Homo sapiens: one gene and its partners. The protein of the gene in region 2 purifies or fractionates together with the protein of the main gene of each other region. This does not show direct contact. Each region holds a gene or a part of one and is shown on either strand. Other genes may lie near its edges.

The links.
Region 1: the proteins of TEX14 (region 2) and DSC3 purify together in Homo sapiens (affinity purification with mass spectrometry; one large-scale study listed by BioGRID and IntAct). This does not show direct contact.
Region 3: the proteins of TEX14 (region 2) and SPINK5 purify together in Homo sapiens (affinity purification with mass spectrometry; one large-scale study listed by BioGRID and IntAct). This does not show direct contact.

Annotation. Positions count from the first base shown.
Region 1 is NC_000018.10:31,025,628-31,029,281, reverse strand, and holds part of DSC3 (desmocollin-3 isoform Dsc3a preproprotein), read left to right. Parts: intron 1-3,366; coding exon 3,367-3,522; intron 3,523-3,654. UniProt on the Homo sapiens protein: A component of desmosome cell-cell junctions which are required for positive regulation of cellular adhesion. Required for cell-cell adhesion in the epidermis, as a result required for the maintenance of the dermal cohesion and the dermal barrier function.
Region 2 is NC_000017.11:58,556,090-58,559,677, reverse strand, and holds the end of TEX14 (inactive serine/threonine-protein kinase TEX14), read left to right. Parts: intron 1-115; coding exon 116-225; intron 226-1,827; coding exon 1,828-1,879; intron 1,880-2,630; coding exon 2,631-2,667; 3' UTR 2,668-3,000; downstream 3,001-3,588.
Region 3 is NC_000005.10:148,062,465-148,066,869, forward strand, and holds the start of SPINK5 (serine protease inhibitor Kazal-type 5 isoform b preproprotein), read left to right. Parts: upstream 1-1,515; 5' UTR 1,516-1,580; coding exon 1,581-1,635; intron 1,636-2,882; coding exon 2,883-2,908; intron 2,909-2,942; exon of another isoform or gene 2,943-3,011; intron 3,012-4,405. UniProt on the Homo sapiens protein: Serine protease inhibitor, probably important for the anti-inflammatory and/or antimicrobial protection of mucous epithelia.

The DNA of each region.
Region 1 (3,654 bases), on a different chromosome or scaffold from region 2:
GTTACTGAGCACTTAACTATATCCTGCGGGAGGTACTGCTCTAAGTACTAAAGATATAAGTAAATTTAGTCATGGCCCTTGCTCTCATGTGGGTTATTGGCCTCGTGAAGGAGACAGAAGTAGGATAATAATTACAATTTTCAGTGATGAGTGCTATGATTCTAGTATAGAGATGTTGGGTGATTTGGTAACAAATGAGATGAACATTAAACCCTGAGGTAAGGTGGTAAAAAGCAAGAGAAGGCTTAGAGAAGGAGACATCTGAGTAGAGTCCTGAAGAATGGAAAATTTTTCTGCAGGTAAATAATTGCAGAAGAAGAGGAAAGTACAGAAGTGAGAGCTCCTTAGAGGAGCTCTGGGTGGCTTAGTCTTCCAAGGTTTGATGGAATGGAGCAGGGAGATGAGGCTGAAGAGGGAGGTAGGGGTCAAACCACTATGGACTATGTGCATTCTACTAGTAAGTTTAACTTTATCTTAATAATAAGGAGAAATTCTTAAGCAGATTACTGACATGATCAGGTTTAGTTTTCTCATTAAGGTAATAGAACATGCACAATTGAAACCATTACTGAAGTAGGGCTATGGCCTTTTGCTTGCCTTTTTCCCCTTAAATTTCTAATAGTGTGCTTGATATTTAATACTAATGGTGTAACCTGTGTACTAATTGTTTCAGTTTTTAACTATCCTTCCACAGTCATTCACATTTATTTTTTATTCTACCCTAGTGCTAGACATTTGTTTATTCTCCATGAATATTATAACTTTATTTGTTTATTCTCCATGAATATTATAACTTGAACACTGATGAAGCATATTAAGAAATGATTTCTAATTGCCAAAGCTGTACCAATCATAGCTAGTTTTAGCCTTTGCTTTGCAAAACCAGTCACCATCTTAGTCCTCATTTCCTTGACATATTTACATTTGACATAGCTCACCTTTCCCTCCTTTTTGAAGTATTTGTTCATTTGGCTCCTAGGACACCATTCGTCTAGTTTTCCACTTACTTCATTGATCACTCCTTCGTATGTTTGGCTGGATCTTCCTCATCCATCCCCCTAGCCTCCTGTCCCAGTCTCTAAACTTCGGAGAGCTCCAGGGCTCAGTCAATGAATCTTACCTCTTGTTTCTTGATATTTACTCTCTCAGTGATCTCATCAGATCTCATAACTCTAAATACTATTTTTTTCATGAATACTTAAAACTTTGTATTTCCAGCCCAAACTATCTAATTGATATTAACACTTGGAAGTTTAATAGGGTTTCAAACTAAACTTATGGAAATAAAATGCTTGTTATTTCTCTTAAAAACAGCCTCCCATCTCAATTAGCAGGGATTAGAGTTCAATCATTCTGACTCTCTGGGCATTGGAGTGTGTTTCATAAGGTTTAAGCTGCAGAAAACATAGTTCTCTCTAAGTTCTTAACAGATAAGGATTTATTACCATTTATTAAAGAGTTTTCAGAATTGTCCGTAGGGCTGAAGAAACAAATTTTAGGTTGAACTTTCAGAAACAAATCCTCAAGCTAGCTATACCACAGTATCTACAACCAAGGGACATATTGCTTTCTCCATAATAGAGAAGACATTATTCTGAGAACCAAAGTGCCACTGGCACAGTCAGGAAAACACCATAGCCATGTTCCTCCTCATGAAACTTCAGAACAGTCTCTGAACTGCACCAACCAGCATCAGAGAAAAGATTGATCTGTATCTTATTTTGTAACACAAAGTTGGCGAATATCTAGTAGTACATATGCTATTGCAGAAAAGGAAGGAAAGAAGGAAGGAAGGAAGGAAGGAAGGAAGGAAGGAAACCAATGCATCTGAACTGAGCTGTCAGAAAAAATAGCAGAAGTAGCAAAAATGAGACACCTGCCTACCTCAAAGAAAGAAAGAAACATAAACTGTGATGCCAGCAAAAATAACAGAAGCAGCAAAAATGAGACACCTGCCTACCTCACTTTTGGCATTCCAATCTTGTTCAAGCACGTCTGACCGTCCATGTTTAAATCCAGAACTCTGGTTTCAAGAGATTCTGCAAAATTTGGAGGTTTTGGTTTATTTTCGTTTGAATATTTCTATCATCTACATTATGAGAGGACACTGTAGAAGGAAAATGAAACAGATATTGAGCTTCAATTTAGCCTATATGTCTATTCTTCTCATAGTTAAACTTTTGATTTCTGTATTATTATACATTATTGGAATAGGTGCATTTTATTGAGATCCCAATTACTAGTGGCTTAAACAAGACAGAGGTTTATTCCTTTCTTGTAAAAGTGTGATCTGGTAAAAAGGTTCTAATCTGAAAAAACACCAAGGACCCAGGTTTCTTTATTTTTTAGCATGGCTGTCTCTGCAGGTTCCAGATGGCTCACCTCTGTGTCCAACAGGGAGAAGACACTCTCTCACCTTCTAGAGCACAACTGGATTTTGCACATATCATTTTTGTTCACATTCCCTTGTCCTGACCTTAGCATGTGGCTCTAACTAATTGCAAGGGTGACTGAGAAATCCTTTCTTCTGGACAACCTTGTGATCACTACAAATTCTAATACTAAGGAAGATGGGCAGAATAGATATTAAGAGATACTAGCACCCTCTGACATAGTGTCCTTGACTTCCATCTTTATACCACACATCCAACTCATCAGCAAATTCTGATGGCTGTACCTTTAAATTATATCCAGAATCTAACCACTTCTCACCACCCCTATGGCTATCATGTTAGCCTAACTAACTACAGTCTCTTCTCTGGGTTTTTGCAGTGACTTCCTCAGTGGTCTACCTGCTTTTTTCCTTACCCATCCAACCACCTCTAGTCATGCTTGACAAAACAGCAAGTATTACCTTTAAGGATATAAATCAGATGATGTTACCCTTGTCTAAATTCTCCAGTGGTTTTCCATTAGACTCCAAGGAAAAGCCAGCATCCTCGAATTCTCCAATGTGGCCCCTATTACCTCATTACCTCTTCATCTCCTACTTCTTTTTTCCATGCTTTTTCTACTCCAATCACAGTGGCTTTCTTGCTACTCCTTGAACATGCTAGGTAAAACACCAGCCTGTTCCCTTGCACTTCCTATTTTCTCTGCCAGAAAGATCCTTCCCTGTTTATCCTCATAGCTTATTCATTTAATTTTTGTCAGTTTTCTTCCTAGGGTACATTCCAATTGGGATTCCCTTCTTCCTGTGAGAATCCCTGTTTGCCTTACTCTTGCCAACAATGGTTATTATTGTTCTTTTCTACCTTTTCTTTTGAAATTATCTCTTTAAAATAAAAAGATACATCAGCTGCATTTAAAAAATATTGTAACTGAATTTAGTTTTAATTTTTTTGCATATTTTTTTTCTACTTTTAGGTTGAATCTGATGCAGCACAGAACTATACTGTCTTCTACTCAATAAGTGGACGTGGAGTTGATAAAGAACCTTTAAATTTGTTTTATATAGAAAGAGACACTGGAAATCTATTTTGCACTCGGCCTGTGGATCGTGAAGAATATGATGTTTTTGATGTAGGACTTTTATTGATATGCCTGACTTTAAATTATTAAACTATGTTTCTTCTGATGCTTACTCCAGCTACTCTTTCCTCTCTCCTTGCATTCTCTTCTTAGAGGGTATCTTAGAGTCAATGGGAAATAGAA
Region 2 (3,588 bases):
CTATTATATGGTTTTGTTGTTGTTGTTGTTGTTGTTTGTTTTTTGTTTTGAGTACAGTCCTGTTTTCTTGGCTGTTGTGTATACGTTTTGATTCCCCAAATAATTGTTGTTACAGGGAGACAAATATCAAAGATCAAAAAGTTGGTGAAGAGAAAAGAAAAAGGGAAGATAGCATTACACCAGAAAGAAGGAAATCAGAGGGTGTTCTAGGGACTTCTGAAGAAGGTATGAATTAATGTATGTTTATAATGTAGTCTGTAGTCCTTGGGCTTTGATGTGCTTCAAAGTTATTTAGAAATGTTTCCCAGATGCTATACATAATCCTCCTACCTTTGATAATTTATTTTTCTCTGCAGTTCAGCTCAGGTTTTCTGTTAATTGCCAATCATAGCTTTATCACAAAAACAGTAATAACATCCAATTCTATTTCCAAAGCAAGCTTTTGCCCAGTCTCATCATCATTATCTTGCACGTTGTCTGGGGAGACGTTTTGCTGCTTCTTTTTTTTTTAGACAGTTTCACTCTTGTTGCCCAGGCTGGAGTGCAGTGGCACGATCTCGGCTCATCGCAACCTCTGCCTCCTGGGTTCAAGTGATTCCCCTGCCTCAGCCTCCTGAGTAGCTGAGATTACAGGTGGATGCCACCATGCCCAGCTAATTTTTGTATTTTTAGTAGAGACGGGGTTTCACCAGGTTGGCCAGGATGGTCTCGATCTCTTGACCTCAGGTGATCTGCCTGCCTCGGCCTCCCAAAGTGCTGGGATTACAGGTGTGAGCCACTGTACCCGGCCGATGTTTTGCTTCTAATTGTCCAACGTCTTCCAAAGAGTTTTAAATTTAGCTCACATAGATGCTTCAAAATCCAGTAATAAATCATATTTTATGGAATTTAAGTGGAGTCTACAAGTAATGTGAAAATTATAAATTAACCTTAATTTTAAAACTATTTTGATAGATTTTGAAGGCTTCTGATATGCCCTTTACAATGACGCTCTCCCATATTTAAGTTCTTCCTACTCAGGAAAGTAAGAGACTTTAACTCTTTCAGATCATCTGGTATTCCTTTCACCTCTTCCTGATTTCCTTCTCATTCTCCCCATCTCTGCCCTGCTTTGTGCCCCAGAATGCTGACCCTAGTGGACTGCATCTCCTGGGCTTCCTGTTTGCCAATGACAGGCCCCAGCAGAAGATTAGTGGGGCTAGAGAGAATTTGGGGTATTACTTTGCCTCACTGCTTACTTCAGCACCTTGTGCCTGGTAGAAGTGGTGTCTCTCCACAAGTGCGGCTTCTGTAGGCAGTCCATTCTTCCCAATTCCAGCTCTCATTAAGGTCTAGTAACTGACCTCTCATCTCCAACACTCAGTTCCTTCAGACTTAGGCTTCCCACTGCTGCTAATCACTGGATGCCTTGACATTCCTTGTTTGTTCCCTTAACTCTAAATAAACCTCTGTATGTAGTCACTTCACTAAGGATCTTTATTTGAACCAGCCGTGGGTACATTCTGTTTCCTCCAGAACCCTGACTGCACAGGGCCCAGAACGTGTAGGCATTTAGCTATTAATAGTATTGATTTCACTGAGAAGATAATACAGGGACTTTGTGAATTAGTGTCATTAGCGCCCATTGCTGTGGCAGAAAACTATAGAATGTTAGGAGGGGAAGCCCATTAATTGTGTTTTTAGAAAGAGTCTATCTGGCAGAATATAACAACCATTGTAGGTAAAACAGTCTACTCTAAATTAGAGGGAGCACTAATATGAATACTGGCACCCTTTGACCTAGAAATTAATCATGTTGTTTTTTCCTTCCTCTTATATTTCATCAAGATGAACTAAAATCCTGTTTTTGGAAGCGACTAGGTTGGTCCGAATCATCCAGGTAATGAAATATCAGATGTTTGTAGATCAAAAGTCATGTTTATAGACAACAGAAGCAGACTTAAAAACATTTACCAGTGTCTAAATACACATTAATGACAAAGACTCCAATTTAGACAAAGTTGCTTAATTTTTAAAATGTTAGTGTTTATAGTTAATTAAACTATAAAGTGAAATTAATGCCAACTTTGATTCAATAAGTGATAGAGTCAGCATAAGAACAGTTTTAGGCCAGGCACGGTGGCTCATACTTGTAATCCCAGCACTTTGGGAGGCCGAGGCGGGCAGATCACCTGAGGTCAGGAGTTCGAGACCAGCCTGGCCAACATGGTGAAACCCCGTCTCTACTAAAAATACAAAAATTAGCCGGGCATGGTGGCAGGCACCTGTAATCCCAGCTACTCAGGAGGCTGAGGCAGGACAATCGCTTAAACCCGGAAGGCAGAGGTTGCAGTGAGCCGAGGTCGCGCCATTGCACTCCACCTGGGGGATAAGAGCAAGACTCCGTCTCAAAAAAAAAAAAAGAACAGGTTTAATATGGAGAGAATACAGAAGATGCTGCTGTCAATTGCTCTGTAGTCATTTTGCATTTCCATGACACACTGTTGGTTATAATCGCCCTTGATTATAAAGACCAAAATTCCTTTCCCTTGAATTTAATTGAATAGAAAGAGGATGTGGTTTGTGTCTTTAAAAAACACACATACCAACTCGAAACTTCCTTTTTTGTTCTTTAAAAAACATGTGCATAGGATAATCGTGCTGGATCAGAGTGACTTGTCAGACTGATTGGAATTGGATCATAGACGGACTCCTGGCCTGAGTTTGAGTGTCCTGGTTGTAAGCTCCTTTCTTCTCTTTCTGCTTCAGTTGCTGTCAGGGCAGCAGTTCCAGTTCTGTAAGTCTCACTTTGTTCAGCTGCCACAATAGACATCATCGTTTGGCCCTCTCTGTTAGCAGCACATTCAACCATTTGTTTTCAGTCAGATTTCTGAAAAGTGAGAGGTAGTTTTGATAGTAAAAATTTTTGGTTGTGCCTAGAATGGCTTTGGTTTTGTTGATGTTAATTTTCAAAAACTTTAACTCTTGTTATATAATAAAATGTTTAATTTTAATAACAGATTTTGCTGTGTAAGATATATTTCTGAATTTGAGTTATTGGGAGTTGGGGGGAGAACTGCCACCCAAAGAGGCTTCAATTTCTGACAAATATGCAGCTACCGCTACCACCCATTATATATACTGGTACCAGTCATCTGTGTCTCATAACAGAACTACAGCCCATCCACTTGGCTGAGAGTGCCATATTCCCATTCCAGCTAGAATTGGCTCACACAATCAAAGTACAGGTAGTGGCCAGATGTGGTGGCTCACGTCTACAATCCCAGCACTTTGGGAGGCCAAGGCAGGAGGATGGCTTGAGCCCAGGAATTCGAGACTGGCCTAGGTAACAGAGGGAGTTCCCTGTCACTATAAAAAATTAAAAAATTAGCCAGACATGATGGTGCATGTCTGTAGTCCTAGCTACTTGCAAGGCTGAGGTGGGATGATCACTTGAGCCCAGGAGGTTGAGGCTGCAGTGAGCCGTGATTACACCACTGCACTCCAGCTTGGGTGCAGAGTGAGACCGTGTCTCAAAAAAAAAAAAAAGTAAGTACAGGTAGCAGTAAAGTCCTAAGATAGTTTGAACTCATTAAGGTGAACAAATAT
Region 3 (4,405 bases), on a different chromosome or scaffold from region 2:
TCCCCTGCCTCAGCCTCCAGAGTAGCTGGGACTACAGGTGCGTACCACCAAGCCCATCTAATTTTTGTATTTTAATAGAGATGGGGTTTCACCATCTTGGCCAGGATGGTCTCGATCTCCTGACCTCATGATCCGCCAGCCTTGGCCTCCCAAAGTGCTGGGATTACAGGCGTGATACACTGTGCCTGGCCCAGTGATTATATTTTTATAGGAAATAAATTATTTCATGAGAGAAAAAAGAAAGGACGTATTATCTCACTGTGATAAATCTCATAATATTGGCATACTCCCTAAGTTGGGCAACTTTGATCAGTTTTCTGGAACCATCATAAAAAGGCCTTTAATTGGATAAAGTCTCGAACTTTTCTTCTGTGGATGTGAATATCTTGAGAAGTACTGGAATGAAACAATTTGGCTCTGGTTTCAGTCATCTTCACATGTTTCTTCAGGTGCTTTCTTAAGCTATTAGGGCAAAATAAGCTGGTAGAAAAAAGGTGTTACTTGTAGGATGAAAGAAGCAACTAAAGAGAAGAAACTTTCTCTAGAAAAATGTTACATTTACACATTTATAATTGTTAACAACTTTTTTCTTCTTTTCTTTTTGGGAGACTAAATAATGGGATGATACAGGAAGAAATATGATTTAGAGAAAACTGATTGAGCCAAATTTTTCAAACGGTAATATGGGTAATCATAGGCTATGGAAAGTTAAACTGAGTCTCCAATGTTTATGATTATGATGTTTGGCTAGGATATAAAATAAGGCTTCAGAATATAAAATATCCTGCAGATTGAGAAGTTTTAAAAGTAGTTACATACAAGTTTTATTTTTCCAACGTTCCTGCCTTTTCTAATGTCTAAGGATGAAGCAGTGTACAGAGAGGAAAGAATGTTATATGTGTGGTCTGCTTGCAAGTGCTGGATGCCTCCTCTGCCTGCTCCAACTAAACTGTCTGCTTATGAGAAAGTCATTGCTCCTCTGAGTTCCTGCCTCCCTATATATTCAACATTAGAATTTTGCCAGGTTATCTTTTAGGGTCGTTCAACTCTAACATATATATGAGTCTGTGACACTGAACTCAGACACTTCAGAACAGGAACCCTGGATTTCTCTGGATGTGGAAATCTTTAAATCTATACCTGACTGGTAGGACAACCAATCTGTCTTCCTTTCCTCTCCTCTCCCACTTATGAAGGGAGTCCAGTCAGAAACATGTTTGTCTACGAGGTAGTATATCTGGTATTTCTGAGGAATTCGGTTATTATATAGGATTATAGAATATTCAACTTTGAGTAGGGTCTGTGGACTCCATCAATTGCGTTCTGGGGGAGGTACCATGAAAGAACATTCCTACTTTAGAAATAGATATTCTCTGTTCAAACCTGACACCCTGACAGGATCCTAAAGGATGGAAGCTAAAGTGGTGTGGTATATAAGTCCCATGACCTTGAACAACTGGTTTTATGTGGGTGTCACCAGTGCTTTATAAAAGTAAACTGCATCGCCCCGAGTTCAGTCATACTGCACCAGCTGAGCAATGCATGGAGTGGACCTGTAGGCGACTTGCATCGTCTTCAACATGAAGATAGCCACAGTGTCAGTGCTTCTGCCCTTGGCTCTTTGCCTCATACAAGGTGAGCAATTTGTGTGTAATCTAAGCCTCTTGCCACACATCTCAAAGCCCTGGGGAAGGGACTTTTCTCCCCCTACTCCTGCCAAAAAATGTTTACGTATGCATGTATAATCCTGAAATGTCTTGCCAGACACAGAGTTCTGAAGATTTATATATGTGGCTTTATAATTATGTTGTTATCTTTAGAAATGGCAAGTAGTTTGAGATAATCTGAATTTTCTAACCATGAGAAATTCTTCCATTAATTCTTTATTAATTCAGAAAACTGAATAGATTCTTCTTCATCTTCCTCTTGCTAAATGTATCAATTCATAATGCATATTCTTATATATGTAATAGACATTTAAAACTTAATTGTAAATAATATATGTATTTTAATGTTATAGGTATAAATGAAATATTTTTTAAAATTCAATCATCTGTTCTTATTTTAAAGCAGTGGTATCTTCTAGCTTATTTTAGTCTTGTGTTTTCAAATGCTAAATGGGTTGAAAGCATTTCTCCCAAAGAGTGAGGGACTTTTGTGGGAGCTGGAAGGTAGATTTTTATATTTGCTATTTAACCCTAAGAGAACACAAATTGCCTAGACTTACGTTGCTCTGAAACATTAAAATTTTTAAAAAGAGAAACTCATAGATAGTCTGAAATCATATACAAATAATGCCCATTTTCCTAAAATAGGTGTGTAGGTACAAAAGAGCCTATGTTAATGAGAGAGTATAATAGCCTGTGACCTTAATCTTACCTTCTGTCAGATCTCTAACTTTTGCAGCTGTAATAAGGAGGTAGAGCTGCCAGAATTCAGAAAATTAAATTTTATGTATATATCCTATAAATGTAATGCTATATTATAGTTTCAACTATAATATAGTTTCAAAATTATAATTGGTATAGTATTTTGTGTGTATGTTATATTGTAATTTTAAAAGGGAGGCTGGCATTTATTACTCCGAAAGGACCTTTTGAAGATAAGCTATTTTGATGGGGTTAGAATTCACATGAGTATTATTTTCCAAAGTAATTGTAACTTTCTGAGTGATTAGACCTTTGTGAGTATATATACTAATCTCCTGGTCCAGTGCCCTTCTTTTATTTGCCATGATAAATCTTAATGTGTTCAAAAACCATTTGCGGTTTTACAACATATTGTCATTAAAGCAATCAAGATGCTGCATTAAATGGATTATTTGTTTTGTTTATTAAATATTTTACATTTCCTTAACTTTGGTTTCTATATTTTCATCCCAGATGCTGCCAGTAAGAATGAAGATCAGGTTAGTCCTGCTTTTTCTGTTCATTGAATTCATTCCAAGATTCCCAAAGAAAAGTGGTTTGTGGCCAACACCTTCATGTTAATAATACAAACATATTATACTGGTAGGTACTAATAGCTTTTGTTAAAAACACAGAAACAGATTTTTATGAATCAGGACATGAGCCTCTCTCTCACACACACACACACACACACACACACTCAACATATTAATGATGATGGATGTCTGCAAGAGGCAATTTATCATGTTAAAGGAGCATTTTAAAATTTCATAAACAAAAAATAAATCAACTGGAAAACTACTATTGTTCCATTTAACATCTCAACAAGCCATGATACACCACATAGGAAGCTGAAATAAATTTTCTAGTAATCATTATGCAAAAGAGGGTGGTCTGTATCTTGTATATAGTCGGTGTATATAGTTCATGTAATGAATATTTATTGAGCATCTCTTAGATGTCAGACCCTGTTTGAGATGCTGGGGTTATTTTTAAGTAAACAAAATAGATGAAATTCCTGCCCTGAAAATTACGTTTTAGTGTAGGAAAACAGACAAATTAATAAGTAGCTTAGCAAAACATATGGTACGTTAAATAATGATAAATGCTAGGAGAAAAATAAATCAGGAGGCATAATAGGATCCCTGAGAATGGAGGTGGTATCCATTCTCATAAGGATAATCAGGGAAGTTCTCTCTGGACAGACAGTATTAGAATAGGAATCTGAAGGTCATAAGGGAATGAACCACGAAGGTATTTGCAGTTTACAGCAGGCCAGACAGAAGCACCTGTGAGCGCAGAGGCCCTGACGCAAGAAGGTGCTTTACCAACTCTTAAACCTCTTTTGTTTGATAAATTAAAAAATCATTTTCTACTAGAAGTTAAATTTTTTAATCTATTTGAAAGATAGGATGACCAATTACTCACACACACACATTTTATATATTTATATACACACACACTGCTATGCATGCTATTAATTCAGCACTTAAAGCACAATCTTAAATGTTTTGCTGAATATGTGGCAAAATTTGTTTTATCTCTGGCCACGAACATTAAAGGAATAAAAATGTGAAACAGCTATTCTTTACGTTGAAACTCTGAGAACCATGGTTAAAATACTCTCTTGCCGTATTTTGTTGCAATGATTTTTTTTAAAGAAACTTCTTACATGAGTGTTCTAGAGAATTTTATCATGTTCTCTACTATTTCATCTAAGTTTACTGATAGGGAGAGGTCCAGAAAGTTCAGTAGAGTAGAAAATAAGCTAGACATTTGGGAATCAGAGAGCATGCTCACTTGGAAGTTTTATACTGGGAAAAAAGAAGGATATTATATAAATATCATTGTGTATAAAACCATCATTTTCTTTTTCAGAGTCCGTGATGATGGTTGGTGATTTATGGCAGATACTGTGAATTTTACACTGCTATTTTTCATAGCATTAACCTCTATTTCACTGAAAAATATTTTAAAAACAAATTTAGTGACTTCTT